Linked DNA regions of Homo sapiens: all the other regions are reported to be linked to region 1. Evidence: microRNA targets listed by miRTarBase, many of them from high-throughput screens and not tested one by one. Region 1 holds a microRNA gene; each other region holds the end of a gene's coding sequence.
The links. The annotated mature microRNA hsa-miR-1827 reads UGAGGCAGUAGAUUGAAU and lies in region 1 at 3,869-3,886, opposite strand. An mRNA with a match to its seed (bases 2 to 7 or 8) in the 3' UTR can be bound and repressed. Matches are read on the target gene's strand: a 7mer-m8 pairs with bases 2 to 8, a 7mer-A1 pairs with bases 2 to 7 and ends in A, and an 8mer does both.

Region 1 (7,611 bases):
CTGATTTTTACTAATGTACTCTGAAATTTGGATCTCATGTAATTTTCACATTTCACAAAATATTCTTTTAATTGTTTTCAGCCATTTAAAAATGTTAGCTGGGCACAGTGGCTCACTCCGGTACTCCTCCCAGCACTTTGGGAGGCCAAAGTGGGAGGATCACTTGAGCCCAAGAGTTCAAGACCAACCTGGGCAACAAAGTGAGACCCCATCTCTATAAAAATTTTAAAACTGGCCAGATGTGGTAGCAAATGTCTGTAGTCCCAGCTACTTGGGAGGCTGAGGCAGGATTGCTTGAGCCCAAGAGGTAGAGATTGCAGTGAGCTGTGTTCTCACCACTGTACTCCAGCCTGGGTGACAGGCTGTTTTTTGTTTCAAAAAAACAAAATAGCAAAATAAAAATGTTAAAACCATTCTTGGCTTGTAGATTGTACAGAAATAGGCAGAGGCTGGAAATGACTCCAGGCTGTAGTTCACTGACTTGCGTTCTAGGAAGGCCTCAGGAGCTTCCCACTCACTCACTCACTGTGTGTGATTAGGCACTAGGGATATGACTGGACAAGATAGTCCCTGTCCTTGTGGAGCTGTCAGTATCCAGGGAACAGATATTAATAAAATATAACAAACACCAACCAGTGCTAGGAAGTTTGAAAGGAAAGAGAGGCAGTACATGTATAGTTCAGGATCTTGATGTGGTTTAGGGGTTGGGGAGGGCTAGGAAAGACTTTCCTGAAGAAGCGACATTCCAGCTGAGACACAAAGGACGAGTTGGTGTTGACTGGGGGGCGTGGAGAGGGGGAGTAAAGTGTTCTAGGGAGAGGAAGTGGCATAAACAGAGGCCTTTAGGTGGGGGTGCTGTTTGCATGTGGGACTCAAGGAGTGCCTGGTGGCAGCTAGGGGTGAAGGGGACATAGCCTTTGGAAGAGGCAGGGCTTGGGTCAGGGCAGGATTTTGGTCTTTGTCCTAAGAGCTATGGAGTCAGTGAAGAGTTTTAAGCAGAGTTTGACAAATCGTTTCTTTTCTTTCTTCTTCTTCTCCCAAATTGATTGCCTTTGTTTATTTGGGCTGCTGTGATAAAATACCATAGACAAGGTAGCTTATGAACAACAGAAATTTATTTCTCATAGTTCTGGAGGCTGGGAAGTCCAAGATGAAGACAGCAGCAGATTTGGTGTCTGGTGGGGGCTCACTCTCTGTTTTAGAGATGATGCCTTGTAGCGGTGTTCTCACAGCAGAAGGGACAGACAAGTTCCCTCTGGGGCCTCCATCTATGTATACATATATATGTGTGTATATATCCATGTATGTATACATATATATGTATGTATGTATCTAGCTACCTAGCTAAGTGTATTTTTCTCCTGAAATCCCTTTTACCACTCTGGCCTCTTCTATAAGGACCCTGATCTCATTCCAGAGGGGTCTGCCCTCATGACTTAATCACTTCCCACAAGGCTTCACTCTTACTACTATTATCTTGGGGACTAGGTCTCAACATAGGAATTTTGTGGGGACACAGACATTCAGACCGTGGCACTGATGATGGTTTAGTCATGCCTAGTATTTTTATTTAACTAGGTTGGAGGATTATCTTGTTTGTGTATGAAGGGTTGAAGTATTTATATGTTATGTACTGGCAAACATTTAAAAGTAGATAAATGCAAAGCTGAACCTATTTGGAGCAGTTGCTTCTTAATTGTTTCTGAGTTGGGGGTGCTGTGATGGATGAAGCTCACTTTGGCAGGTATGTGTGGCTGGGGCCAGCCCCACCCCGGTGGACTTCCTTTCCTGAAGGATTCCTAATGGCCCTTAGCATTGACTTCTCTCCTGCTGCACTTGCTTTGCTTGTATGCACATTGCCAGTTTCCTTCCACCATGGAGATAACAATTTCTTGAGAAATGAAAGGAGGGGTCAGATGCATTCGGGGTGGAGGTGTACCAGCTCCCACCTCACTGAGGCATCTGATGAGGGTAGACAGGTGTCCTTGGTCAGACGCTTTTACCTTTGAGGCACTGGGGTGCAGACTTCCCACCTCCAGTCAGAACAAAATATAGACAGTAACAACCCCTTCCTCTAAAGAAAGAAAAGGACCCTGCCATTGTATCTCAGACTGGGAGAGGGAAGGGCATTTTCATTAGCAATTTTCAGTTCTGGTATTTATGTAGTGGGGTCTTAATGATATTTGATTGGGTGTTTACCTATATCGTATCAGGCTAGCCCTCAGCTGGGTTTCGTTTACTTTCACAGAATGAATGTATTGTGGAAATGGTAAACTAGGTAGTCGTGACTAATTAGTGGCTTCTAACTAGTGTTCTGTGAAATACTCTGCCTAAAGTGCTCAGTTCAGTAAACATCCTGAGCACTCGGTTGTGTGAGACCATCTGAGGGGCAAGGAGCTGAGAGGATCCCTAGGGAGACTGTGGCTTTCATGATTGTCCAGTAGGCAGTAGCTCACCAGCCAGCACAGGGGGCCCTCAGTCGGCTAGAGATTCAGGATGGTTTTGCTCCCTGATCTAGTCTTTGAGCATCTGCTGTTGTGTCCTACTAGAGCATCACCTCCTAGGAGGAGATTTTGTCAGTATAGTTCACTACTGTGCCTTTCATGCTTAGAGGATGCCAGATGCTTATTGCCTAACCCAAGCTTTAAGCCCTCATATCCTCTTGGAGTGTGTGTGTGTGTGTGTGTGTGTGTGTGTGTGTGTGTGTGTGTAAACCTCTCCCTCTCTGGATCAGTGAGAGTGTTGTTAAGGTTACAAATAAGAAATGCCTAGCACACTGCCTGACTGATTGTAAGTGCTCTGTAAATGGTGGCTACACACCCCAGGCCTGCTGGCATTGCTGCCACTGTTGCCCCTCTGACTCTTTTGAGCCAGTAGGTGAAGTGTGTCTCCACTCCCTTGGGTGGAGTGGACAGGGTGCCTTTCTCAAGGGCAGTTGTGAGGGCTGAGCTGGCCGGGAAGGTGTGCTCTTCCTTCCAGGCCTCCCTCCCACAGGTCTTCTGCGGGCCCTGCAGTTGGCCCTGCTCTGACTCTTAGTTTTTGCTTCATTCTTGACCCACTCAGGCCTGGTAGAAAGAGTTATCTGTGAGCACGGCGGGGGTTCCCAAGAATCTATTATGGTTTTAGTGTCTAGGACTCTAAAGTCGTGACAGTGACTCGTCTCTTCAGCCCCTGTTTGCAGCAGAGGGCGCAAACCAGCTCAAAGCAGGCACACAGATGTTTGGTGAATTGGGAGAAGTTGTTCCTGTCCAGGAGCCATAACGTGGTATTTGTAATTTTCCTCGTTGGAAGGCATGGCTCTGTCTGCCAAGAAAGACAAGGCATGTAGTCACCATGCTGCTGCCTCACAGTGACATTTTTAAAGCCAGACCTTCTAGAGAAGGAAGCAGGAAGGAAGGCGACTTGCTTTTGGGCCCGTGGAGTTTCAGCAGTTGCGGGAAGTTGGCTGGGCTGTGTGTGTGTGTTGCTGCATTGGTGCCTGGTCTTCTTTGATAGCTCCCAGGAGCATGAGGTTGTGCTTAGCAGTTGTGTCCCATCAGTCCTCTTGGTCTCGATCAGTTCACACGCTCCCAGGGCCCCACGTATCAGAAGGGCCGCCGTTGCATAACACTGTCCATGGAAATCACTGCAGTCATGAGAGGAGCAGTGGCTTTGGCCTGTAGACTCAGAGACCTTTCACCATGACTCAGCATGGGAAGCGGAGGCTCAGAGAACTTCAGCCTGTCTTGTCCAGGGCCACCAAGGGAGCAACTGAGCCATGTCTTCTGTTATATTTAGAGTTGGGGGCTGAGGAGGGGCGCCTATCTGCATTCTCTGCCGGTCCTGGGTCCACCTGTTGCAGGGACCCAATTCTAAGGGACCTGAATCAATTCAATCTACTGCCTCAGCCTTTCAGAGGCTTCTCATTGCTTTAGGCTGAAGGCTGTGCTGCTGAACATGGCCTTCAGGGTCCCATGGGGTCTGACTCCTGTCATTTCCTCTGTTGCAGGCCCACTTGACTTCTTGCAGTTCTTCAGATGTATTGTCTTCCCGACAGGCCCTGCCTCAGGCTGTCCCTTTGCAGGGCGGGCTGTCTCTTCTCTGGTTACTTCTGTTCGTTCTTCAGAGAAGCCTTCCCTGTTCCTCCCATTCCTCACTGCCGTGCTTCTCCTTCACAGCCCTTACCACTGCCTGTAGTTACTGTATTTCTTTGTGTACTCATCTGTGGTCTAGCTCCCTTGCAAGGCTGGGAGCTCCATGGGGCAGGGACCCTGTCTGTCTTGTCTCTGGTTTACCCCAGTGCCTCACACGGCCTGGTACATAGTGGGTGTCCAGCATCGACTTGAGGAAGAGTGATGAGGGAAGGCTCCAGACCCTTTCAGGGGCAGAGTTGCTCTACTGCTCCTGCTCCTGCTGCTTGGGGCTCATCATCCTCTGCCCTGCACACCCGTGGCAGGGGGGGTCTGCCCACACCCACCTGCCTTTGTGCCACACTCCCTTCCCTAGCAGGACGATGGTTCCTCTCAGCACTGTCCTTTTTGTTTGGCCTCCTGGTGGGAGGTGAAGCCAGCTGGACTTCCTGGGTCGAGTGGGGACTTGGAGAACTTTTCTGTCTAGCTAGAGGATTGTAAACACACCAGTCAGCGCTGTGTCTAGCTAAAGGATTGTAAATGCACCAATCAGCACTCTGTAAAAACGCACCAATCAGTGCTCTGTGTCCAGCTAAAGGATTGTAAACACACCAATCAGTACTCTGTAAAATGGATCAATCAGCACTCTGTAAAATGGACCAATCAGCGCTCTGTAAAATGGACCAATGAGCAGGATGTGGGCAGGGACAAATGAGGGAATAAAAGCTGGCCACCCCACCCAGCAGCGGCAACCTGCTCGGGTCCCCTTCCATGCTGTGGAACCTTTGTTCTTTCGCTCTTCATCATAAATCTTACTGCTGCTCACTCTTTGGGTCCGTGCCACCTTTAAGAGCTGCAACACTCACCGCAAAGGTCTGCAGCTTCATTCTTGAAGTTGGCGAGACTAAGAACCCACCAGAAGGAACCAATTCTGGACACTGGGAAGGATGTTACCTTCGGACACAGTGTTGTTCACTTTTTTGACTGGGAACCGACAGCAGATAATACACCTTTGTATGTAAATGTATACTGTCAGTATGTACATAAAACTGAAAGAAAAATGTCACTGCTACATATAGTAAAGCTAAGTACTATTTTCTCTTTTAATACTAAAAAAAATGCTTGTCCCCTCAAAATTGACTTCTTATCTTCTTAATTTGATATCCTGGCCCACAGTGGGTCACCACTCAAGTTTAGAGAAGCCCATTCTGCAGGACTGCCTGGCTGTGCAGCTGGTGCTCCCTCCCTCCCTGCTGCATTTTCCTCTCCCCCTCACTGTGGGATGGGGCTGAGGTTGTTCCCTTGGGTAAGAGGCTGTCCCTCCCTGCCTTCAGCAGTTTGAAGGGTTCTCAGGAAGACAGGCAGGCAAGGCCTGTGAGTCCTCTGCCACAGGTGCCGTAGGGTGCAGTTCAAGGCTGAACCCAGCATGTCACAGCCTCCCTGGGTGCACCAGGAAGAAATGGCTTATTCTTTGCGGTGTGGGTTTTGGGAGAGGCTAGTGATGGTTTTGCTCTGAAGACGAGTTTTGACTTAAAGGGCTTGAGCGATGGAGAGGGACTGGCCAAAGGGAAATGTAAGTTCAAGGACACCCATGCAGAGGCAAGGAAGTCAGAACAGGGTGTGTCTCACAAGTGGCATGGGTTCTCATGCCAGGTGCATAGGGTGCTTAAGGGGGTGAGGATAGAAGAGGAGCTGAGGAGGCCAGGGAGCCCAGGGTGAAGGGGTGGGGGTGTCTGCCCTTTGGGCAGTAGGGAACCAGTGGAGCTGTACCTGTCTGAAAGTTCTACAACAAGAGTATTGTTTCTTAGATGTTTGGTTTATTTGAGGCTGTGCACGTTTTATTAGGTGTTTGCTCTAATGTGTTAGAATTGGAAGGATGATGTACTCATCTGTCCAGGTAAATGTCTAGAGTATTTTGGAAAGGGTCTTTCTGATGACACCCTCCCAGATCCTCAGGATCAAAAGACATCATATCAGAAGTAAATATATTCTAACTTTGGACATTAATGCTCCAAACTTGAATGCCAGCTGAAGCCTGGACCACAGCAGAAAGCAGCCTCTCAAAGTCCTTGGTTTGAAGGGCAATAGCTTTTTAGAGAGTGATTGTATTAATTTGCTCTGGCTGCTGTAACAAGTTACCATAAACTTGATGTTTTAAAACAACACATATTAATTCTCTGATAGTTTGGGAGGCCAGAAGTTCAAAATCAGCTTCACTAGGCCTAAGTTCAGGTGTCGACAGGACTGGTTTCTTTGGAGGCTCCAGGGCAAAGTCGGTTCCGGGCCTCTTCCAGCTTCTGGTGGCTGCTGGCATTGCTTGGTCTATGGCTGGCTTGCTGTAATCTCTGCTTCCCTGGCCACATTGCCATCTCCTCTTCTGCAGTTGAATCTAGGCCCACTCCTGAGATAACAGCGTTAATCCATTCGTGAGGACTGAGCCTTCATGGCCTAATCACCTCTTAATGGTTCCACCTCTTAATACTATCACAGTGACAATTACATTTCAACATGAGTTTTGGAGGGGACGTTCAAACCATAGCAAATGACCTCTGGCTTGCAGGCCTGCCACCTGATAGATTCCCCATTTGGCCTGCCTTCTTAGTTGTGTGTTTGTACTTCATTGTAAAAGTCATGCATGTGTATAAAAAGAAAAATCAGCCATTGCTGAGGGGTGCACAGTTAAAAGTGAAAGTCCTTCTAAGTCCACTTCCCAGAAGTCACCACTAGAACTGAAATTGGTTATGTATGCACCCTGAAATTTGCTCGGTGTATATGTGATCTACACAGAGGGATCATGCAGTATCCACTGTTTTAGTGTATAGCTATTTCAGTGACTTAGAATTCCACTCACTCTTCCTTCAAACACAGTTTCTCTATATTTACCATGTCATGAGGCCCACTTATGCCAAAGCTGTGCTCTTACCTGCAGGTGAGTCAGGAGGGGTTAGCAATGGCGGGGAGTGTAGGGCCACTTGCCATGCCCCTTTGAACTGGGGCATTATATAGGCACTTATCTGGAATGTCTTAACTTGTTAGTCTTTATTAGAGCTCTTGTTCTAACAGAGTTCAGTTATATGAATGCGCCCTAATTTAACCAGTTTCCTAGCCACAGACATCTGCTTGTTTCTACTTTTTTTTGTCATTTCAAATAGCATTTTTGTGGTATCCTTGTGTGTGTATATATGTATATATATATATATATATCTCTGTCCTTGTGAGAATATATTTGAGGAATTAATTTGTGGAGGAGGAAATACTGAGTCAACTTTATTGGGATGGCTACAGAGGAAACTCCCCCAACAACCTCCTCCCTGGACCCCCAACCTTTGTTTCCCTCAACAGGGCTTGTAGTCTGGAGGGAGGGAGGGAGCTGGCAGCAGTGGTAGCCTACCTCCCTCCCGTACACGAAGTCCTGGCAAGTGCAAACCCTCTGCCTCTGCCATGTCATCCCACTGCTGAAGAGGTTGTGGTGTTGCCTAAAATGTGGCTGTGCAGGCAGTTT
Region 2 (7,611 bases), not on the chromosome of region 1:
GGAGGCTTAGATGGGAGGATCACTTGAGCCCAGGAGTTCAAGGCTGCAGTGAGGTGTAATTACACTCCAGATGGGACTACAGAGTGAGACCCTGTATTTAAAAAACAAAAACAAAAACATTTAGAATGTGACTGACTTCTATGTCAAGATTTTCTAATATTCTTAGCTGTCTGAAGATGAAATAAGTTTATTTGGGTCATGAATTCCCTATCACCATGATACTCAACTAGAGTTAGGATGACCCAGTAGGGATATTACTATTTGGATTAAAGCACTAGATTATGTGTAGGTCAAATGAGTTTTAATTTTCTGAAGAGTTAATAAGATTGTGATTTGATGTAATACATTTAAACTTTCCTGGTTTTGAATTAACTTGCTTGGATTTTATTCAGTTACCAAAACTCTGGCATCAAGGTGATCATGTTTTATTCTGTGATATATATCTTCCCTTTTTTTGTGAGGTTCAAATCATTTTATGGTGAATTTGAGACATGATATAAAGAAAAAGTATTTTTAAATTTGACACATTTCTTAGTAAATAAATTGAAATGAAACAAATAATAATCTCCCTAGGCCTTTAGTTATTGGTTCTGCATGATAATGTGTTGGGGGGTGGAGGGAATCTGAAGTCTAACACATTTAACAGAAGCTAGTTAAACTTTATTTACTGTAGCTACTAATAAAGAGCTATAAACAGGGAAAGGTGTGTGTGTAAATGTTGTTTGTGGTGTCTAGGTAACATTGGTGCAGGAGAGAATTGAACTTGGTTTGTTTTTCTTTTCCTTCAGTTGCAGGAAGAGGCAGAGGAAGAGGAAGAGGAAGAGGACGTGGCCGTGGCAGAGGAAGAGGGGGTCCTAGGCGATAATGTCTCTCAAGATTTCAAAGTCATATGAGATTTGGGATATTTTTTGTACAGGTTGTGTTTGTTTATGTCAGTTTTTAATAAACATAAATGTGGGACAGAGCTGTCTATTTAGTATATCAAAGTTTTAGTAGTTTCCTCCACATTCACGAAATTACCACAGTGAGAGCTAAGCATTTCTACTGGGCAGTTTCATTTTTAGTTGATCAGGTTTTAAGTTTTTGAACTAAAATTTTTCTTTTTCTTTTTATGATGAATAAGGTTAAAATAAAAGCCTTAGACAAATTAAATTTGGCAGAGTTTAATTGAGCAAAGGACAATTCACAAATCAGGTAGCCCCTGAACCATAATAGGCTCAGAGGCTTCAGCCCAGCTGCATAGTTGAAGATTTATGGACAGAAGGAAAGTGATGTATGGAAAATGGAAGTGAGATACAGCAACAGCCGGATTAGTTACAGTTCAGCGTTTGCCTTATTTGAATATGGTTTGAACAGTTCGCTGTCTTTGGTTGGCTGAAACTTAGTGATTGCCACAAGAGTAGGGTACCGTCTGTTTACACGTCCAGTTAGGCTACAGTTCTATGTACTGAGAAACCTTTAAGCTGAACTTGAGATATGTAAAGAGACTTTAGGCTAAACTTAACAATATATATAGGATATATACCCTTCTACTTCACATGCACTGAATATGCATTTTATTGCTTTACTCTTCATTCTGTGGCACCTACCCACAGGGGAAGTAAGAAGTTTGTTTTGGTATTTCGGAAACTAAAGTCCTTATGGGATGGGGTCTAGAATTGATTCTCCTTTCCTGAGTTTTACTCCACGGAGTCTTAGGTACCTGGTAAAAAGTTGTCTTCTAAATTAAGGGTCATTGCTTTGTTGTCTAGCTGCTAATGTCTTACTTTTGTTTCTTTTGCTTTTTAATCAGTTCTTAATAGGATATAGTTTTATGTTTTCCAAGTTATAACTTGGAGTTAATGGTCACTAGATTATCAGTTATGAGCAGTGTTAAAATCTCCTATTAATGTGTAATGTACCTGTCAGTGCCTCCTTTATTAAGGGGTTCTTTGAGAATAAAAGAGAAAAGACCTACTTTATTTGACAGCAAAACTGTTCTAATTGTTAATAAGGACTTTTAAAAATTGTTTTTGATTTGCTAAGCTCAGAAAAAATGTCTCTCAGTGCATCAGTTCTTTGTAAAGCTTACTACGAAGTATTTATATGCTAAGGAAAACAACTGAGGATGTGGGTGGCTTAAATCTGTATTTTCATCATGTATGTGAGTTTTTTTTTTTTTAAGTAAAGAAATTTTCTGCAAAGATCGTTACCTTAAAAAAGTTTAGCCTGGGTGTGGTGGCTCACGCCTGTAATCCCAGCACTTTGGGAGGCCGAGGCAGGTGGATCACGAGGTCAGGAGTTGAAGACCAGCTTGGCCAAGAGGGTGAAACCCCATTTCTACTAAAAATACAAAAGTTAGCCAGGTGCAGTGACAGGCGCCTGTAATCCCAGCTACTCATGAGGCCGAGGCAGGAGAATTGCTTGAACCCAGGAGGCGGAGGTTGCAGTGAGCCGAGATTGTGCCACTGCACTCCAGCCTGGGCGATGGAGTGAGACTACGTCTCAAAAAAAAATCGAGAGAGAGATATATATATGTATTTATATATATATGTATTTATACTAATATATAAATATATACTAATAGATATATTAGTATACATGTAGAATGTACCTGTCATATATATTAGATATATAAATGTATATATTGGTATAAATAAATACTAGATATATATTTTTTTAAGTATCTTACCTCATCAAGTAAATTCAAATGCTTTTTGATTTTTCCACAGTTGATAATTTTTTTTTGTAAGTCATTGAAGTTATATAGTAATTAGCGTTTTTTCCCCCACAAATTATTGGCAGTGGTCACCCAGTTGTATTACAGGTTCTATGATCCAAAAAGGGATGTATGAAATTCATGATGATTAAGACAATTTTTTCTTTCTTTCTTTTGAGACAGAGTCTTGCTGTGTCACCCAGGCTGGAGTGCAGTGGTGCGATCTTGGCTCACTGCAACCTCTGCGTCCCGGGTTCAAGAGATTATTGTGCCTCAGCCTCCAGAGTAGCTGGGATTATAAGCGTGCGCCACCACACCCAGCTAATTTTTTTGTATTTTTAGTAGAGACGGGGTTTCACCATGTTGGCCAGACTTAAGACAATTCTTTAATAGTAAATATATTAAAGGTGAGTTGGCTTGACAAGATACAACCAATATGTAATTTTTCTCCACACGTTTTTTTTTTTTTTTTTTTTTTTTTTCTGGAGACAGTCTTGCTCTGTTGCCCAGGCTGGAGTACAGTGGCGCGATCTTGGCTCACTGCAAGCTCTGCCTCCCGGGTTCAGGCCATTCTCCTGCCTCAGCCTCCCGAGTAGCTGGGACTACAGGTGCCTGCCACCACACCCAGCTAATTTTTTGTCTTTTTAGTAGAGACGGGGTTTCACTGTGTTAGGATGGTCTCGTTCTCCTGACCTCATGATCTGCACGAGGCCTCCCAATGTGCTGGGATTACAGGCGTGAGCCACCGTGCGTCCCCGGCCTATACCTTTCATTAATTAATAAGCTGGGGGAATAAATAACTGGATTTCATTCTTTTCCATCTTCTGACCTGTTGGTGCTCCTATTGCTTGTATCCAAGTAGAAGGCAAAAGGCAAGAGACCCCTGTAATGCAGCAAGTGGAGAGATTTGTTGAAGGGGTCAAACAAAACCCTGCAAGAGTAGGAAATAAACAGTTGGCTCCTGTCCTCGTGGAGCTTATAGACAGAAGCAGATAACAAATAAAAATTGGAGCTTAGTGCCGTGGTGCACACTTGTAGTCCCTGCTACTGGGGAGGCTAAGGCAAGAGGATCGCTATAGCCTGGGAATTTGAAGCTGTAGCGTGCTATGATTGCAAGCAGCCTGGGTAACCTAGTGAGACCTGGCTCTTAAATTTAAAATTTAAATGAAAATGGCCACTTAGCATAAGAGATCTAAAATTACGTTTTGTCCTGGCATGGTGGCTCATGCCTGTGACCTCAGCACTTTGGGAGGCCGAGATGGGCGAATCACTTGAGGTCAGGAGTTCGAGACCAGCCTGGGTAACATGGTGAAACCCTGTCTACTGAAAATACAAAAATTAGCTTGGTGTGGTGGCGGGTGCCTGTAATCTCAGTTACTCAGGAGGCTTAGGCAGGAGAATCACTTGAACCCTGGAGGCAGAGGTTGCAGTGAGCTGAGATCACACCACTGCACTTCAGCCTGAGTGACAGAGCGAGACTGTTTCAAAAAAAAAAAAAAAATTTGTTTTGAGAGTTTTTGTGTCTAGGATGTTTGCAGTGTGAAGCCAGTCTAGTAACAGTTTAAATGTAATAATAAATCACAGTGGGTACTAGATTGAGTTTATTCCACTAGAGGTCATTATTTCATTTCCATGTGAAAGGGCTAAAATTGGGTGAAGAAAAAGCTATTTGAACTGATTACCATCATTTGCTATAAAGGAAGCATTATAGTATGAATAGAAAACAGACTAGAGTTTAACATGCTTCTCTTGACCCCTCTTCACCACCCCCTAAAAGGCAGATGGGATCTTAGGACTGCAGCATTTTGTACACATCTGATATTTAATGAGATGTTACATATGAACTTTAGTTTTTTTTCTTTTCTTTTCTTTTCTTTTCTTTTCTTTTTTTTTTTTTGAGACAGAGTCTAGCTCTGTCACCCAGGCTGGAGTGCAGTGGTGCAATCTCGGCTCACTGCAAACTCTGCCTCCCGGGTTCACGCCATTCTCCTGCCTCAGCCTCCTGAGTAGCTGAGACTACAGGTGCCCACCACTATGCCCGGCTAATGTTTTGTACTTTTAGTAGAGACGGGGTTTCACTGTGTTAGCCAGGATGGTCTGAATCTCCTGACCTCGTGATTCGCCCGCCTCGGCCTCCCAAAGTGCTGGGATTACAGGCGTGAGCCACCGCGTCCGGCCGAACATTAGTTTTTAAAGAAATGTATTATGAATATAGATAGAAAACCCAAAGTGAAGGAATAGAAAATGAAATATCAGTTTCTTTTAATCTATCATAATTATGTGAGCATAACTTAGTATTTTGAAATAGATTAATGTAGTCAGCAAACAATTCATGTATTACCTATAATAGATATCATACATATAACATTTAATAACATACAGTTCTTGTTCCTGAAGACTTAACCTAGAAAATAACTCCATAACAAGAAGAATCTCTGTCATAATAAACCAACAGCAGACATTTTCTAAAGGCATTAAAAGTATATCTGATACTGGCCTTTATTAATGTGAAATTCTTGTGGATCTGTGAAATAAAGAGGAGTACTTTCTTTTCGTTTTTTTTTCTTTTCTTTTTTTTTGAGACAGTCTCACTCCTTCATCAAGGCTGGAGTACAGTGGTGCGATCTTGGCTCACTGCAACCTCTGTGTCCCGGGTTCAAGCAATTCTCGTGCCTCAGCCTCCCGAGTAGCTGGGATTACAGGCATGCACCACCACACCCAGCTAATCTTTGTATTTTTAGTAGAGACAGGGTTTCACCATTTTGGCCAGGCTGGTCTCTAATGCCAGACCTCAAGCGATCTGCCTGCCTCAGGCTTCCAAAGTGCTGAGATTACAGGTGTGAGCCACTGCGCCCAGCCAATAGGAGTACTTTTGAAAAGGAAGATAAATTTTTTTTTTTTGAGACGTAGTCTTGCTCTGTCACCCAGGCTGGAGTGTAGTGGTGCAATCTCAGTCCACTGCAAGCTCCACCTCCCGGGTTCATGCCATTCTCCTGCCTCAGCCTCCCGAGTAGCTGGGACTACAGGCACCCACCACCACGCCTGGCTAATTTTTTGTAGTTTTAGTAGAGACGGGGTTTCACCGTGTTAGCCAGGATGGTCTCGATCTCCTGACCTCGTGATCCGTCTGCCTCAGCCTCCCAAAGTGCTGGGATTACAGGCGTGAGCCACCACACCCGGCTGATAAACTTTGTAATACTAAGTTCTTTCTGTGTGGGAACATAGTAGTGTTCTCTATCTGAACCAGCTTTTCTTCTCAGTGAAGTTTTAGGGTTTTGTTTACGTATTCCATATATTTTGAGAAATGTTAATATACAGTGAGATTCAGTTTATGAAGAAAATAGTAATAATAGCAAGGCTGTAGATACCCAGTGCAGTCAATTCTTGGAATTTTCAGTAGTTGTGTAAAGTTGCTGTTAATACTAAACCACTACTTCTAGGGAAAATATAGGGTTAAGTTCCTGCAAGCCTCTAGTCACATTTTCATCAACCAACCAATACATAACCTTGTTTTATGAGTGTTTCTGTTTAGAGACATATATAGTAGTATATGTAATACATATATACTACTGATTTGTTAATTCATGGCTAGCAGCACTAACTCATCCATGAACAAAGCTTATCTAACACTTATTTTCTCAAAAAGGCACATCATAGCCTTCTTGAATTTAGGAACACGACAGCACTAAACCTGGGGGCCATTTTAAATGTCTCAAAAAAAAAAAGAACAGTTAAACAGGCTTGTTTAGGGTCTTTGCCATCCCACAACACACGCTGCCTATGCACAACTAGTGTTTTCCTACTTCTGTGGCTTTGTGCTTGTCTTTCCTCTTCCTGTAACATCCTCACCTTCCCAAGTTCTCTGTGTTTGTCCTTAAGAATCCTGTATCATTATAGCTGAAAGACATTACAGACCATCTAGTCCTTGCCTTCTGTTTTCAAGTTGAGCAAACTGAAGCTGACAGAGGTGGAACTTATTTGCCCAAGGGCCACAATAAGCCACTGGTGTCTGGAGGATGCACGGGCTCTGTGCTTTTCCTACCTCCTAGGATGTATTCCCCAGTTGCCCTCCTTCACTCCCTGTCACAGTCACTGATGGCTTCCCTTTGTGTGGGTTTTCTCTGTGCTAAGCTGTTCTGTACTACTCAAATGCTATTCAGCATATATCCTTAAGTCTTGCTGTCTTGTTCAGTTTGTCTCCAGCCGATTTTAATATTTTTAGGGTAGAAATCTTTTCTTCTTTTCTTCCTTTTGTATTCTCCATTATGTGTCTCCCTCCCTCCCTCCCTTCCTTCCTCTTCCTCTCTCTTTTTTTTTTTTTCTTTTTTTCTTTTTTTTTTTAGACGGAGTCTCACTCTGTTGCCTAGGCTGGAGTGCAATGGCATGATCTCAGCTCACTGCAATCTCTGCCTCCCGGGTTCAAGCAGTTCTCCCATTTCAGCCTCCCTAGTAGCTGGGACTACAAGTGTGTGTCACATGCCCTGCTAATTTTGTACTTTTTTTTTTTTTTTCCGAGACGGAGTCTCACTCTGTTGCCCAGGCTGGAGTGCAGTGGTGCGATCTTGGCTCACTGCAAGCTCTGCATCCCGGGTTCACGCCATTCTCCTGCCTCAGCCTCCCGAGTAGCTGGGACTACAGGCACCTGTCACCATACCCGGCTAGTTTTTTGTATTTTTAGTAAAGATGGGGTTTCACCATGTTAGCCAGGATGGTCTCGATCTCCTGACCTCGTGATCCGCCCACCTTGGCCTTCCAAAGTGCTGGGATTACAGGTGTGAGCCACTGCGCCCGGCCAATTTTTGTACTTTTAGTAGAGACGAGGTTTCACCATCTTGGCCAGGCTGGTCTGGAACACCTGACCTCGCCCACCTTGGCCTCCCAAAGTACTGGGATTATAGGTGTGAGCCACCACG
Region 3 (7,000 bases), not on the chromosome of region 1:
TATTTTTAGTTAAGACGGGGTTTCACCATGTTGGCCAGGCTGGTCTCAAACTCCTAACCTCAAGTGATCCACTCGCCTTGGCTTCCCAAAGTGCTGAGATTACAGGCATGAGCCACTTTGCCCGACCTGCCCTCTATGTTTGCAGTTAGCAGATTAAATGGTCCCCACCCCTGTTAATTCCTGTATTTCTTAATGGCAAGAATTAATGAAACGTATCATTATGATTTCATTATATTTTACCATTCGTATTTATACAATATGTTTAATAGTCATTTATAAATGTTTGTTGACAGCTTGAAACGAAATTCAAAAGTGGTTTAAATGGGAGCATCTTGGCTGAGAGGGAAGAACCCCTCCGATGCCTAATAAAGTTCTCTAGCCCACATCTTCTGGAAGCATTGAAATCCTTAGCACCAGCGGGTGAGTGGTCAGCTTACTCTATAAGCTAGAAAAATTAACAACATGCCTCCATTCCATCCTTATAATCTGCTAATTACTTCTGAGCTCACCCATCACCCTAGTCTGCTAGCCCATCCTGCTCTCTCTTGCATCTTCTGCTTCTGTACTTAATAGGGAGGAGGGGCATCTATGATCCACCCTCTAATCTCAGCCATTTTTAAACTGACTCAAATCCATCCTCCTGTGATGACTTTTAATTTTCTTTTTCCCTTTTTTTTTTTTTTAATTTCAGGTATTGCAGATGCTCCACTTTCTCCACTGCTCACTTGCATACCCAACAAGAGAATGAATTATTTTAAAATTAGAGATAAATAAGACGTGCGTGGTTTCTTAAGCACAGCTCCTCCTTCTTGATATTGCACATGCACTTCAGTTCATGGCTAGCTGTATAGCTTCCGTCTGTAAACTTGTATTTTCAAGAATCCTTGGTATTGAATTTTTAGAAATGCTCACATAATTGTTGGGACTGATTCATTCCTCCACGATATGCCTCCTCTCTCTGATATCCTGCTAACTGTAGCCGTTGTGGCATTTGAGATGACAGGACATATATATATATGGCCCCACACTTGACCTTGAGTGCCTGAATGCTCTGAAATCAAGCATATGGCACAGCGCTCAAGACTTTTGGGTTTGTGTCCTTTTTTCTATGGCTGTCTCTTCTCAATTCTGGAGAGGTCTGGTTCCAGTGGCTGGTTTCCAGGGATTGATTCTTAAGCTCTGGATCACAGAGAGAAGCAACAAGGAACTATACTCAACTCAAAACTTTTTAGGAGAATCATGAAATTGGTCTATTCAAAGGATGGAGTTGAGTCCATTCTGTTATTGTTGCAAGAGGTTGCATATTTGGTGAGTCAGTTATATAAAATAGTGTTCTTATTGTAAATATGATACTTCTCATAATCTATTTTATCATGTGTATAACATTCAAACTGACAAATATATTGACTTATGAATAAAGGTGTCAAAAAACTGGCACATCAGTTAATTTTGATCAAAGTACTTCAGTGATCATCACTAAATACCCTATCTTTTTAAAAATTTTTTCCTTTCTAATTTTTTATTTCTTTATTTATTTATTGAGACAGGGTCTCACTGTGTCACCCAAGCTGGAGTGCAGTGGCATGATCATGGCTCACTGCAGCCTGGACCTCCCAGGCTCAAGTGATCCTTCCACCTCAGCCTCCCGAATAGCTGGGATTACAGACGCGCTCCATCCTGCCCAGCTAATTTTTTTTTTGTTTGTTTTTTGTTTTTTGAGACAAGTCTCCTTCTATCGCCCAGGCTGGAGTGCAATGGCACAATCTTGGCTCCCTGCAACCTCTGCCTCCTGGGTTGAAGAGATTCTCCTGCCTCAGCCTCTGAGTAGCTGGGACTACAGGCCTGCACCACCATGCCCAGCTAATTTTTGTATTTTTAGTAGAGACAGGGTTTCTCCATGTTGCCCAGGCTGATCTCAAACTCCTGGGCTCAAGCAATCTGCCCATTTTAGCCTCCTAAAATGCTGGGATTATAGGAGTGTATTAGTCTATTCTCATGCTGCTAATAAAGATACCTAAGACTGGGTAATTCACAAAGGAAAGAGGCTTAACTGACGCACATTTCCACGTGGCCAGGGAGGCCTCACAATCATGGTGGAAGGCAAATGAGAAGCAAAGTCATGTCTTACATGGCGGCAGGCAAGAGAGCTTGTGCAGGGAAACTCCCATTTATAAAACCACCAGAGCTCATGAAACTTATTCACTACCATGAGAATAGTATGGGGGAAATCGTTCCCATGACTCAAGTATCTCCACCTGGCCCTGCCCTTGTCACATGGGGGTTATTACAATTCAAGGTGACACTTGTGTGGAGACACAGCCAAACCATATCACAGGCATGAGCTACCACGCCCGCCAGCATGTCTTTTTTAAACATTTTAAAATCTATTCTTTATCTTGTTTCAGAGAGGATTTGGAGTTACAGAAACACATTAGACTGGGCATGGTGGCTCACACTTGTAATCCCAGCACTTCAGGAGGTTTCTCCTAGTGTACTCTCACACTTCTGATACCAGATATGTGGGGGAGGGGGTTTCCCCCACACATTAAGCAAGTGTGAAACATGATATAGAAAAATGACTTCACTCTGGGCCGGGTGTAGTGGCTCACGCCTGTAATCCTAGCACTTTGGGAAGCCGAGGTGGGCAGATCACCCGAGGTCAGGAGTTCGAGACCAGCCTAGCCAACATGGCAAAACCTTGTCTCTACTAAAAATAGAAAAATTAGTTGGGGGTAGTGGCAGCCGCCTGTAATCCCAGCTATTCGAGAGGCTGAGGCAGGAGAACTGGTTGAACCGGGGAGGCAGAGGTTGCAGTGAGCCAAGATCATGCCACTGCACTCTAGCCTGGGTGACAGAGTGAAACTCTGCCTCAAAAAATAAAATAAAGGCCAGGCATGGTGGCTCACGCCTATAATCCCAGCACTTTCAGAGGCCAAGGCAGGTGGGTCACAAGGTCAAGAGTTTGAGACTAGCCTTAGCAACATGGTGAAGGTGAACCCCGACTCTACTAAAAATACAAAAATTAGCTGGGCCTGGTGGTGTGCACCTGTAATCCCAGCTACTTAGGAGGCTGAGGCAGGAGAATCGCTTGAACCCGGGAGACATAGGTTGCAGTGAGCCGAGACTGCACCACTGCACTCCAGCCTAGGTGACAGAGTGAGACTCCATCTTAAAAAATAAATAAATAAAATAAAATAAATGACATCACTTTGGTTCAGAGCTCTAAAATGGAGGGAGGAAGCCATTCTAAAAAGGACTCCCTACATGACCTGCAACTTGAAAAAAAATTAAAAGCTCCAAAAAAAAAACAATACAGGAGCTTACCTTGAACCTTTGAATTGGGCCAAATTGCGATGACCACTGCATCCTGGAAAATTTTATTTCACCAGCACTACAACTCCTCAACAGCACCAACCAATAAACTATGGATTTTTGTACTAAGCCAGTTGCCTCTTTCAAAACAACTTGTCAACTTGTCTAATCACCCTCAGCTTTTTTTAAAAACCCCTCCTCTACCCTCTCTCTTCAGAACACAAGTGGCTTCTAGCTGAATCTGTCTCCCAAATTGCAATTCCTAAGACCTCAATAAAAACACCTTGTCTTGCTGCTTTGCAGTGTGGTCTTTTGCCCCTTGGATGACATTAAATGGTGTCAGAATTGAGTGGGACAAAAAAGCAACTCCCTTCTTTGTTCTGGTGCGGCCACGGATTCGAGCACAGTTCCTGCAGGAGGAACCCCTTGTGTTCCACACCTCTCCCATGGCCACGGATTCTGTTTACGAGTTGTCTCATTCCTTAACCCCCTACCTTGGTTGAGGTTCTTTATCCAACGTCCTTGGTTGCCAGCTGTCCAGTAGCTGGGATTACAGGCACGTGCCACCATGCCCAGCTAATTTTTGTATTTTTAGTAGAGACAGGGTTTCACCATGTTGGTCAGACTGGTCTCAAACTCCTGACCTCAAGTGATCCTGCCGCCTCGGCCTCCCAAAGTGCTGGGATTACAGGTGTGAGCCTCAGTGCCCAGCCAAAATTCTATTTAACTTGATTTTTCTCTTCATGGCCAACTCACTGTTTCATTTGTGAAACTACTAGGGAAATTTCAGACTAGGGAATATTGAGGCACAGAAAATGATGGTACTTTGGCATGCTGGATGCTTTTGAAAATGGAAAGGCCTGAGAAATACACTTGAGAGTCAAGGTCCCTCCAACCTTGTCTTATTCTTGCCTCAACCAAGGGCAGAGAGGAACTCCCTCTGGAATTTCCTTGTCTGACTAAGAAAGCTTCTTACTAAAAGAAACACAGTTGCCTTCTATTCTGTCCTTCAAATCTCATTATCTATCAAAAAATGAAGACTGAGGAATAGAGCCACATATGGATGGACCTTTTCATAAGGCCTGCCCCTCAGGCTCATTCAGATTCCAAAGAGAATCATTTACAAGTTAATTTCTGTCTCCCTGGTCCATTTACTCTCCCTTATAATAATTTACTGCTCCTCAGAAGAATTACACACGTTCCCCATCTCCTTACTCTCCTATGAAAAAGGGTATATAAGCGTCCACACCCCATTGGGGGTTGGGGAATCATCACTCTGATGCCTCCCCTCCCCACCAGGCACGTTAATAAAACTTGTATGTCTTTTCTCCTATTAATCCGTCTTTTATCAGTTGATTTTCAGTGTTTTTTTTTTTTTAGCACTTGTTTGCAGGATCCAAAAGCTGCTCTGCTATTCTGGAAGCCACAGTCAAGGGACCCAGGACCCGAGCAGCTGGCAGAAGGACTTGTACCTTCTGTTTGTCCCATTGTATCCAAGATGTTAAAATCATGATGTCACAACATTTAGACATTTAAATGGTTAATCAAATGTATGTCTCTCCTGATATACAGCTAACTGCTATAGACTAATGCAGGCCTCCTTGTTAAAATGGACCCTTTGTTACTCAAATTTGACCAATCTTGGAAGCTTGGATGTGCACTGACTTGACAACCACTTTTTGTGGGACATAACACTCTAGACACAGGTGCTTCTAGCTCTAAGGGGAACAGATAACTAATCTGTGGCCAACCAACCAATGATTAATCAGCTATGCTGCCTCGGATCTTGATCAAAAAAGGAAAATGTGAAAAGTGATACACAAAATGGCATCACTTTGGTTCAGAGCTCTAAAATGGAGTTGGGAAGCCATTCTAAGAAGGACTGCCTGCACAATCTGCAACTTGCAAAACACAAAAACAAAAAATATGAACTTGCCTTGAAGCTTTGAACTGGGCCAAAACTGCAATAACCACTACATCCTGGAAAACTGAATTTCACCAGTGCTACAACTCCTGAACAGCGGCAACCAATCAACTATGGATTCATGTACTAAGCCAGCCACCTCCACCAATGATAATTCTTTCAAAACAATTTGTGTATTAACCCTCTGCTTTCTTTTAAAAACATCTACTTCTCTCCCTCTTTTCAGAACCCCATTTGGCTTCTAGGTGAATCTGTGTCTCCCAAATTGTAATTTCTAAGACCCCAATCAAAATGCCTTGTTTGGCTGGACGTGGTAACTTGCATCTATAATCCCAGCACTTTCGGAGGCCGAGGCAGGTGGATCACTTGACCCCAAGCTGGCCAAAATGGCGAGACCCTGTCTCTTTTCTTTTTTTTTTTTTTAATTAAAAAAAAATGCCTTGTCTTACTGCTTTGCAGTGTGGTCTTTCACCTCTTCTTTTTTTTTTTTTTTTTTTTGAGACAGTCTTGCTCTGTCACCAGGCTGGAGTACAGTGGTGCGATCTTGGCTCACCACAACCTCCGTCTCCTGGGTTCAAGCGATTCTCCTGCCTCAGCCTCCTGAGTAGCTGGGATTACAGGCGTGCGCACCACACCCGGCTAATTTTTGTATTTTTAGTAGAGACAGAGTTTCACCATGTTGGCCAGGATGGTCTCGATCTCTTGACCTCGTGATCCGCCCTGCCTCGGCCACCCAAAGTGCTGGGATTACAGGCGTGAGCCACCATGCCTGGCCCTTTCACCTCTTCTTGGTTGACATAAGCAATCAGTTCTACAGCAGATACCAGCTGGGTATGCTCCAGTTCAATTCCAACACTAACTACCTGGCGATATCATCAGACCCCATAGGTTAAGGGCTCAGTCCCACAAAACTGCCACCCACTTCTGAGGCCAGTTGCCAGCCCCAGGTTGTTTCACCTGCGCTTCTGACTAACCAGCTATAAATTGCATTTCCCACAACCCTCTCTTCATGTTCAATTAATTTGCTAGGGCAGCTCACAGAACTCAGGAAGACACATAGACTGACTTCTTACAAGGGATGTTACAAAGGATTCAGATGAAAAGATGCATAGGGCAAGAGCTTCCACGCATGCCCTCTTTGAGTGCGCCTCCCTCCAGGAAACTCCATGCATTCAGCTATCTGGAAGTTCTCCAAACCCATTTCTTTTGGGATTTTATGGAGGCTTCATTACCTAGGAATGATTGATCAGCTTAAGCTTCAGCCCCTGTCTCCTCCCCAGAGGTTGAGGGGGAGGGCTGAAAGTCTCAAGCCTCTAATCCTACCTTGGTCTTTCCAGTGACCAGTCCCATCCTAAAGCTACCTAGGGACTGTGAGTCATCAGTCAACTAATTAGCATACAAAAAAACACCAATTTGCTGATTCCAAGGATTTTAGGAATTGCATGCCAGGACAAAGACCAAATATATACTTCACATTATCACAGTTATCTTGCAAGGCAAAGGGACTTGGCAGTTGGAGAAATTATCCTGGATGATTTGAATGGGCCCAATGTCATCACAGGGGGCCTCAAGAATAGAAGAATCAGAGGGATCACTACTGAAGAAATCAGAGTGATGTGATGTGACGAAGACTCAACTCACCGTTACTGATTCTGGAGATGGAGGAAGGGTCCGCAAGCCAAGGAATGTAGGCAACCTCTAGAAGCTGGGAAAGGCAAGTGAACAGATTCTCCCCTGGAGCCTTGGGAAGGAATACAGCCCTGC
Region 4 (7,611 bases), not on the chromosome of region 1:
CAAAGAATGGGGTGGCAGCAGAAGTCAGCCCAGCCAAAGAGGAGAATCCAAGGCGAGCCTCAAAGGCAGTTGAGGAGAGCAGTGATGAGGAACGGCAGAGGGACCTGCCCGCACAGAGGGGAGAGGAGAGCAGTGAGGAGGAGGAAAAGGGGTACAAGGGGAAGACTAGGAAGAAACCTGTGGTAAAGAAGCAGGCACCAGGCAAGGCCTCAGTCAGTAGGAAGCAGGCCAGGGAAGAAAGTGAGGAGAGCGAGGCAGAACCCGTTCAGAGGACAGCAAAGAAGGTGGAGGGAAATAAAGGAACTAAAAGCCTGAAGGAAAGTGAACAGGAGAGTGAAGAGGAGATCCTAGCCCAGAAGAAAGAGCAGAGAGAGGAGGAAGTGGAGGAGGAAGAGAAAGAAGAGGATGAGGAAAAGGGGGATTGGAAACCCAGAACCAGGAGCAATGGCCGGAGAAAGTCAGCTAGGGAGGAGAGGAGCTGTAAGCAGAAAAGCCAGGCAAAGAGGCTCTTGGGAGACTCAGACAGCGAGGAAGAGCAGAAAGAGGCAGCCAGCAGTGGGGATGACAGTGGGAGAGATAGAGAACCCCCAGTGCAGAGGAAGAGTGAGGACAGGACCCAGCTTAAGGGTGGGAAGAGGTTGAGTGGAAGCAGCGAGGACGAGGAAGACAGTGGGAAGGGGGAACCCACAGCTAAAGGCTCTAGAAAGATGGCCAGACTGGGCAGCACCAGTGGTGAGGAAAGTGACTTGGAGAGGGAGGTAAGTGACAGCGAGGCAGGGGGAGGCCCCCAGGGGGAGAGGAAGAACCGCTCTTCCAAGAAGAGCTCCAGGAAAGGCAGGACACGAAGCTCCTCTTCCTCCTCAGATGGAAGTCCAGAGGCCAAAGGAGGGAAGGTGAGGGTGAGGAGGGGTGGGAGGCCACTATTAGGGAAGAGGGAGACCCTGCCTCAGGCCCAGCAGGCTTGGCCTTCAGCTGCTCTTTCCTTGCTAGGCTGGCTCAGGTCGCCGTGGAGAGGACCACCCGGCTGTGATGAGGCTGAAGCGCTACATTCGGGCCTGTGGTGCCCATCGAAACTACAAGAAGCTGTTGGGCTCCTGTTGCTCACACAAGGAGCGCCTGAGTATCCTCCGGGCAGAACTGGAAGCGCTAGGCATGAAGGGTGAGGCCCGGCGTGCCCTGGGGGCTGCAGGAGAGGGCCTTCCTGCTGGGGAGGAGAGAATCACCAGCTTCTTCTGCCCCAGGTACCCCTTCCCTAGGGAAGTGTCGGGCCCTGAAGGAGCAGAGGGAGGAGGCAGCTGAGGTGGCCTCCTTGGATGTTGCGAACATCATCAGTGGCTCGGGTAAGGGGTTTCCTCTCACTGCCCAGGAGCAGATAGGTGGGGTTGGACCTTCTCAGACATCTGATCTCTCGTTTCCCCTTTCCCCTAGGCCGGCCACGCAGACGTACAGCCTGGAACCCTTTAGGAGAAGCAGCACCCCCAGGGGAGCTGTACCGACGGACCCTGGACTCAGATGAAGAGCGGCCCCGTCCCGCACCCCCAGACTGGTCACATATGCGTGGCATCATCAGCAGTGATGGCGAGAGTAACTGAGCTCTGCCACCCCCAGGAGGGACCCTTGATACATGTACAAAGCATACATAGCACCCCTTGCCCTGTGTCTGTGGAACAGAAGCAGCTTCCTTCAGAGAAGACTGCAGCTCCCAAGGACACAAGCTGTTGGGATGCTACTTCTCAGCTTCACGCTGTCCCTTTAAGGTGTTTATTTTTTAAGACTCAATAAAGGAGTGTTTTTAATCACCTCATCAAATTTGGTCCCCCATTCTCACCTCCTGTATTTTGGGCCAGGAAACTGAGCAGTAGTCACTGCCTCCACCTCCTCCCCTGGCCTGGTTCCCTTTAATTTCCCCCGGGTTCCTGGAAGAAGTCCCTGCCTCCAGACCCTGTCATCCAACAGCCACCAGACCCTTTTGGAGAAGGGTGTGTGGCTCCTGTGCTGCCCGCCTACCCCGTGGCCCCTCTGCTTTTAGCCTAGTCTGATAACCTAATGCCCACTTGGGAGAGGGATAGAATGACTTGAGGGCAGCCAGTGCTTAAGCCTTCTCCCTTATGCAAACAGCCACTTTGTCCATGGGCTGTTAGCCTCAAAGGGGTGGGGAAAAGCCCATACCTCCTGGGCCAGTCCTAGCCCTCTAGGCCTCTGGCTACAGGCCCAGCCTCTGCAGTCACATGAGGTCTCCACTGAACTCTGGCTGCTGAGGCTTGCGGGAAGATTCGTGAGCATGGAGCTGCCTGGGGTCTGTGTGGGAGGCAAACCTAAGAATCTTTGAAGTCAAAGCAAAGAAAACGAATTAGAGGTCAAGGGGTTGAAGACCACCTTTGAGATCCGAGATCTGGTCACACCTAAAGTCATTAAAATCACTGAAATGTTTAGATACACAGCCCAATAAATTCTCTTTATAAAACACAAGCAGTACTATTCAGTGGCCACTGAGCAGTCCTTCACGCACACCAAAGACAGAAGGGTGAGTCCTGAGATCTGTTAGAATAACCAACAGTTTATTAAAAGCTTGCCTGGGGCTCTGTGCCAGCCCCACAGCTGAGAGGGGCTCCCACGACTGCCCCCCAGGCCTGGGAGCAGCCCCTTCCAAGGTCCTTCCCTTGTTTCCCCGCCCCAGCCCTGATCCCAATTAAAAAAAAAAAAAAAAAGATAAAGGACAAGACGGCACAGGACGTCAGACAGTTACGGGAAGAGACCCAGGCATCCTGACCCCAAGACCCCATCCTGATCCTTCCTGCCAGTAAGGTGGCCTCTCATTCTCCCTGCCTCAGGCCCCAGACCTGCTCTGCCCTGTGGCAGGTCTGAGGGCCTCACTGTGAGGGTAGTATAGTTCTCTGAATATAGTATGTCTAGACCCACCCTTCCCCTCCCCCAGGGGACTAGATGAATATTTGACACGCACATCTCCCTCCTTTCCTAGGTGGCGGAGGGAGACCCCTGGCACCATGGTAGGGAGGCGGGGCTCCCAGGCAGCCTTGAGGCACCTATCGCCAAGCTGGCCCTGGGCCACTGGCCAGCCCCAAGAAGCTCATGAGATGAGGAGGTCTGAGGGGAGCTGGAGCCTACATCTTGTCCCCTACCCTTGCAGGGGCCTCCAGCTCAGTGCCCTCCAGGGTCAGGCTCCACCCACCCCTGCCCTGCCCAGCTCATCTGCTCCTCCCCGCTGCACCTCAGGAATAGAAGTGGGAAGAACCATTGAGGATGTGGGAAGCGACACTGGTGCTGCGGCTCAGGGGCCCGGGCACCGCGGCAGCAGGGGGGCCCACATTCTCACTGCCACTGCCCCCCGAGGCTGCCCGCCGCAGGGGCTGGGGGCTGTTTCTTAGCAGCAGCAGGGCTCCGCCACGGGGTGTCCCACTTTGTGTGGGGGGCCCCAGCCAGTTTGGGGGGCCTGGGGGAGCCAGCAGAGACGGCTGACGCCAGGCTGGAGGGGGCATGCCTGGTGGAGGAGGGCCATGGCTCCAGTGTGCCCCAGAACGGGGAACGGGACGGGAGGGCCAGGCTGGGGCAGGGGGTGGAGCAGGATAGCCCTGGGCAGCAGCTTCAGCCGGGATGCCCCCCAGAGCCATGCTGGAGAAGCCCAGCCTCATGCTTTCCGCATCGAAGGCCTCGATCTCACGGGCCTGCCGCTCAAGCAGACTGCGGATTCGCTCGGAGCGTCCTGTCTGCAGGGCCAGCAGCTCCTCTTCCACCTGGGGCATCCGGAACAGAGGTTAGAGTCGGGGGCAGGAGCCCACCCTCCCTCCCCAGTCCTGGAGGCTGGGCCCCTTACCCGCTGCTCCAGCAGTGCCCGCCGCAGCGCGACCCTCTGCTCCAGCTCCCGCAGCTCCCTCTCGTGCTGGCTCTCTGTGCGGATCTTGATCTTGCTCTGGTAAGCGTTGAGCAGCTCCAGCTCCTGTTGAAGCTGCTGCCGAAGGGCCTGGAACTCTGCCTCCTGGGTCTCATCAAGCCGCAGCTGGGGAAGATGAACAACCAGTTGTAGGGATCTCCTCCCCCACCCCCACTATCCTCCCCTGCCCCAGGTAGGCCTGGGCCCTAAGGTTTCAAGAAGCAGCGGTCTCAACATCTATCAGAATGGAAGATGGTCATACCCTGTGGCACAGCAATTACACTGCAGAATCTATCCCCCAGGTATACTTGCACATGTGCTCGAGGTGTTCACGGAAGCGTTGTGATAGCAAAATACTGGAAACAACCTAAATGTCCACCAATAAGGGATGGGTTAAATAAATTATGGTACAGCCATACCATGGAAAATTCTATGCTGTAAAAAAAATGAGACAGGTGTACTGACAGGGGAAGATGTCCAAGAAATATTAAGTGGAAAAAAGAAGTTACAGAAAGTAAATGTAAAGTATGATTCCATCTGTGTTTAAAATTCATATAATTTTTCAAAATGTGCACTGAAAAAACACAAAATACAGTTAATTATTAACAAGTTACCTGGGAGAGGTGGGACTGGGTGAGAGAACAGCCTTGGGTGGGGCGTTTCCACTCTCCACCCTCTCCGCACATTTTAAGTGGCCCATTCCAGTGTTAGGTGTGATCATTTTTTTAGAACAGCAACTTTCAAAATCCTCCAGAAGTCTGAGTAAATGGGCTTGAGGGCCACACTCACTTTAATCTGCACCCTGTTTACCCATTAAACTAACTCAGGCCCAGGAAAAAAATAATAGCCACTCTTTTCCTTGGTGGTTCTTGGGAATAGGCACATGGCTTTGTCAAGACCTTAAGAAAATACTAAGAGAAAGAATAAAACCACTGAGGAGAATATGAAATAAATCATTGTGGAGAACACGAACAGAGGGAGAGTATGTGAGTTTCCCAAGTAAAAAAGCCCCAGCTCTGTGCATGCCCTGCACCGTCCATTTCTCTAAAGCAAAGTACAGAGCCTGGCCTCTAGCGCACTCCCTCCCTGGACCCCAGGCCTCACCGCCTGTGAGCTGAGCATCTCTGAGATGGACTGGTCATACTGCTCCGCCAAGATCGCCAGCTTGCGGGTCTGCTCTTCCTTGAGCCGCTTAAGGAGGCTCTTGTGCTGAGCTTTGGGCGTGGTCTCCAGCAAGTGTGCTCGCAGAGCCTTGTACTGCCGAGTCTGGATCTTACACGTCTCCTGGAACTGCTTCTTGATCTGCAGCTCCTTAGACTATGCAGTGGACGGATCAAGGGGAGATGGGGGCAGCGGGGAAGAGGAGGAGGAAGAGGAGGAAGAGGAAGAGGAGGAACAACCAGGGGAAATGGGGAGAAGAGAGAGAAGAGGAGAGGAGACAGAAGCAGAGACAGGGAGAGGGAGAGAAACAGAAAACATGTTAGACAGAGGGGGTGGGGGGAGCTGTATACAGACAGACAGACATGGAGAGGTGGGATCGTGTTGAGAGAGATCAGGAAGGTCTCGATGGGCAAGAGATGCAGAGAAGACAAGAGGTTCCAAGAGCACGTGCACGGAGTTGGGTGCGATACCCACGAGAAAGAACATCGGAGTTACTGGACAGGGAACTGAGGATCTTGGAAGCTCTGACCAGGCAAAGAGGGAGAGACTGTGACCTAGAGACAGAAGCACGTGAGCAAATATGAGAACGTGCACGAGAACAAGCGAGAAGAACCAGTCACACAAAACACCCATGAAGAAAGCAACACGACTAAGGACAGACACAGGAAGTCCCAGGTCCAGCAGCTCAGGGAGGAAGGCAGGGAAGGAGGAGAAGCACCGAGCTGAGAAATGGGTAAGAAGGGGCTGCCCCATTTTGGGCCGCAGAGGAGAAAGGGGCAAAGGAGGTGGCCAGAAAGGGCCTGACAAGTTCAACCGGCCAGCAGCTACCACCCTGACCAGATCCGCATTCCAGCCCGGCCCCTCACACACTCAGCTCCCACTCCAGGCCCACACTCAATCCTGCTGCCACAGCCTTCATACTCCGCCTGGTTGCCCCCAGCTCAGCACCCCCTACTGTGGAGGGTCTGCAGCCCCGTCCCCCAACCCACTAGGGTAATGCCTGATGCAGGAGAGCAATTTGGTCCCCTGCAGCCATGGTTGGGAGAAAAGGCAAGGGATGAGGAGACCAAGGGCCTGGAAACTAAGACCTCTGGAAGGAACCCGCAAACAGGCGCTCTGTGGGACCAAGAAGTTCGGTGAAGTTCTACAGGGGCCCAGACCCCAGAGCCGGTGGTGGTCATGGTGCAATGAAGCTATGAAGGCAGAGAGCATGAGGCTGGAGGAGTGAGGGGGCTGAGATAACGGAGATGGGGTGAAGAGGTCATGGAGCCGGGCCGAGGGTCAGCCTGGGGGCATACCGGGGAGGCTAGGCGGCAGGACAAAGCAGACAGAGGCAGCCTGGGCCAAAGGCACAGTTCCGCTCAGATATTTTATTTGTGTTTGTCTTTTTCTTTTTTTGGTGGGGGGAAGGGGACAGGTTGGAAGGGAGACAGAAAAACAAAATCAAAGAGGAGAAAAAAAACATGACTCTTCCCACCCTCCACCACCCCTGGCCCCAGGCCTGAGTCAATGAGGGTGAGGATGAGCACACACAGCGGGCGAACAGCAATAACTTAGGGGAGGAGCGCCAGGAGAACACAGAGTGACTGCTGGACTCCACAGCTGAGGAGGCTGCCTGTCTAGAGGTCCGAAGGGCTGGGCCTGGGGTAAGTGAGCAAACTGAGGAAGGTGGGTGAAAAGAGAGGACTAGGGACTGGAGAAACTTCACTGAGTCGTGGGAGATAAAGTGCTCAATGCTCTAGATTTGGGCTGGAAGGGCTGGAGTCAGCTACCTCCAGGGGGGCAGGGCCCGGGACTGGCGGGTGCGTGACCTCCGCCCGGCTAGAGTCCCTGGCAGTGGCTGGCGGGAGGCAGGGGGCCCTAGCTGGCGCTGGCTGCGTGGTAGTAGCCGGGGGATTCGGGTGGGCCGTTCACCCCGAAGCAGGCCCCAGCTGGCCAGTGTGTGGATGGCCCACGGGGGCAAGTGGGATGCTAAACCCTGGCTGGCCCGTGCCAGACGCCAGTTCCAGCCCTTGCACAGGACCCAGACCCTTGCCAACAGAGCTAATGGGTGTTGGGTGGTGCGGGGATTACGCCGCCGGGGCCCAGGGACGGGCAGGCGGCTGCGGAAGCCATCCTTGTTGGTTTTGGGGTACAGTGCAAACAGACCCCGGTCCCCCACAGCCCCACAGCCCTGCAGGGCCCGGAAGGCCATGGGTGACAGGCGCAGCAGAACCCGCAACCAGAGTCGAGATATGCCCCGGCGCACCCGGGGGCCCTGCTGCCGCACCCATCTGCCCCCCGCTGCCATAGCCACCAGAGGTAGAGCTAGGCCTGGCCAAGCTAAGAGCCAGGCAGCTCCAAGGCCCAGGGGAACACCCATGAGGCCTCGGCGCCAGCTCAGGCCCAGGACGGCCCCCAGTGCGGTACCCTGGGCCAGGAGTAGGAAAAGACTGGAGGGCAGGTGCAGGGCTGTACAAAGGAGCAGGTAGGAGGCCCCCAGACCCACCAGCCCCACCTCAAGGGCCAGCAGCGCTGCCTGCAGGCCACCCCCACCCTGGGCTGCCAGCAATGGAAGCAGC

Region 2: the mRNA of SNRPD1 is a reported target of hsa-miR-1827. Seed matches in the 3' UTR shown: 7mer-A1 at 2,968-2,974, 7mer-m8 at 3,248-3,254, 8mer at 3,274-3,281, 7mer-m8 at 4,662-4,668 and 8mer at 4,688-4,695.
Region 3: the mRNA of CENPN is a reported target of hsa-miR-1827. Seed matches in the 3' UTR shown: 7mer-m8 at 1,783-1,789, 8mer at 1,809-1,816 and 8mer at 2,865-2,872.
Region 4: the mRNA of HIRIP3 is a reported target of hsa-miR-1827. Seed matches in the 3' UTR shown: 7mer-m8 at 1,866-1,872 and 7mer-m8 at 1,930-1,936.

What each region holds. Positions count from the first base shown.
Region 1 is chr12:100,186,207-100,193,817 of GRCh38, reverse strand. It overlaps MIR1827 (microRNA 1827), which reads right to left and starts at 3,934; the gene lies at 3,869-3,934.
Region 2 is chr18:21,628,274-21,635,884 of GRCh38, forward strand. It overlaps SNRPD1 (small nuclear ribonucleoprotein D1 polypeptide), which reads left to right. Exons shown (of 4, transcript NM_006938.4): 4 at 789-5,247. The coding sequence ends at 865. Among named protein-coding and RNA genes, the nearest start is that of SNRPD1, 20 kb to the left of the region's middle.
Region 3 is chr16:81,027,878-81,034,877 of GRCh38, forward strand. It overlaps CENPN (centromere protein N), which reads left to right. Exons shown (of 11, transcript NM_001100624.3): 10 at 294-420; 11 at 692-3,608. The coding sequence ends at 774. It overlaps CENPN-AS1 (CENPN antisense RNA 1), which reads right to left. Exons shown (of 4, transcript XR_007065134.1): 2 at 6,878-7,000. Among named protein-coding and RNA genes, the nearest start is that of ATMIN, 4.5 kb to the right of the region's middle.
Region 4 is chr16:29,987,188-29,994,798 of GRCh38, reverse strand. It overlaps HIRIP3 (HIRA interacting protein 3), which reads left to right. Exons shown (of 7, transcript NM_003609.5): 4 at 1-893; 5 at 991-1,159; 6 at 1,242-1,340; 7 at 1,429-2,469. The coding sequence ends at 1,592. It overlaps TAOK2 (TAO kinase 2), which reads right to left. Exons shown (of 16, transcript NM_016151.4): 16 at 6,406-7,611. The coding sequence ends at 6,819. Among named protein-coding and RNA genes, the nearest start is that of HIRIP3, 4.6 kb to the left of the region's middle. RefSeq lists enhancers at 691-1,191, 1,192-1,692, 3,380-3,967.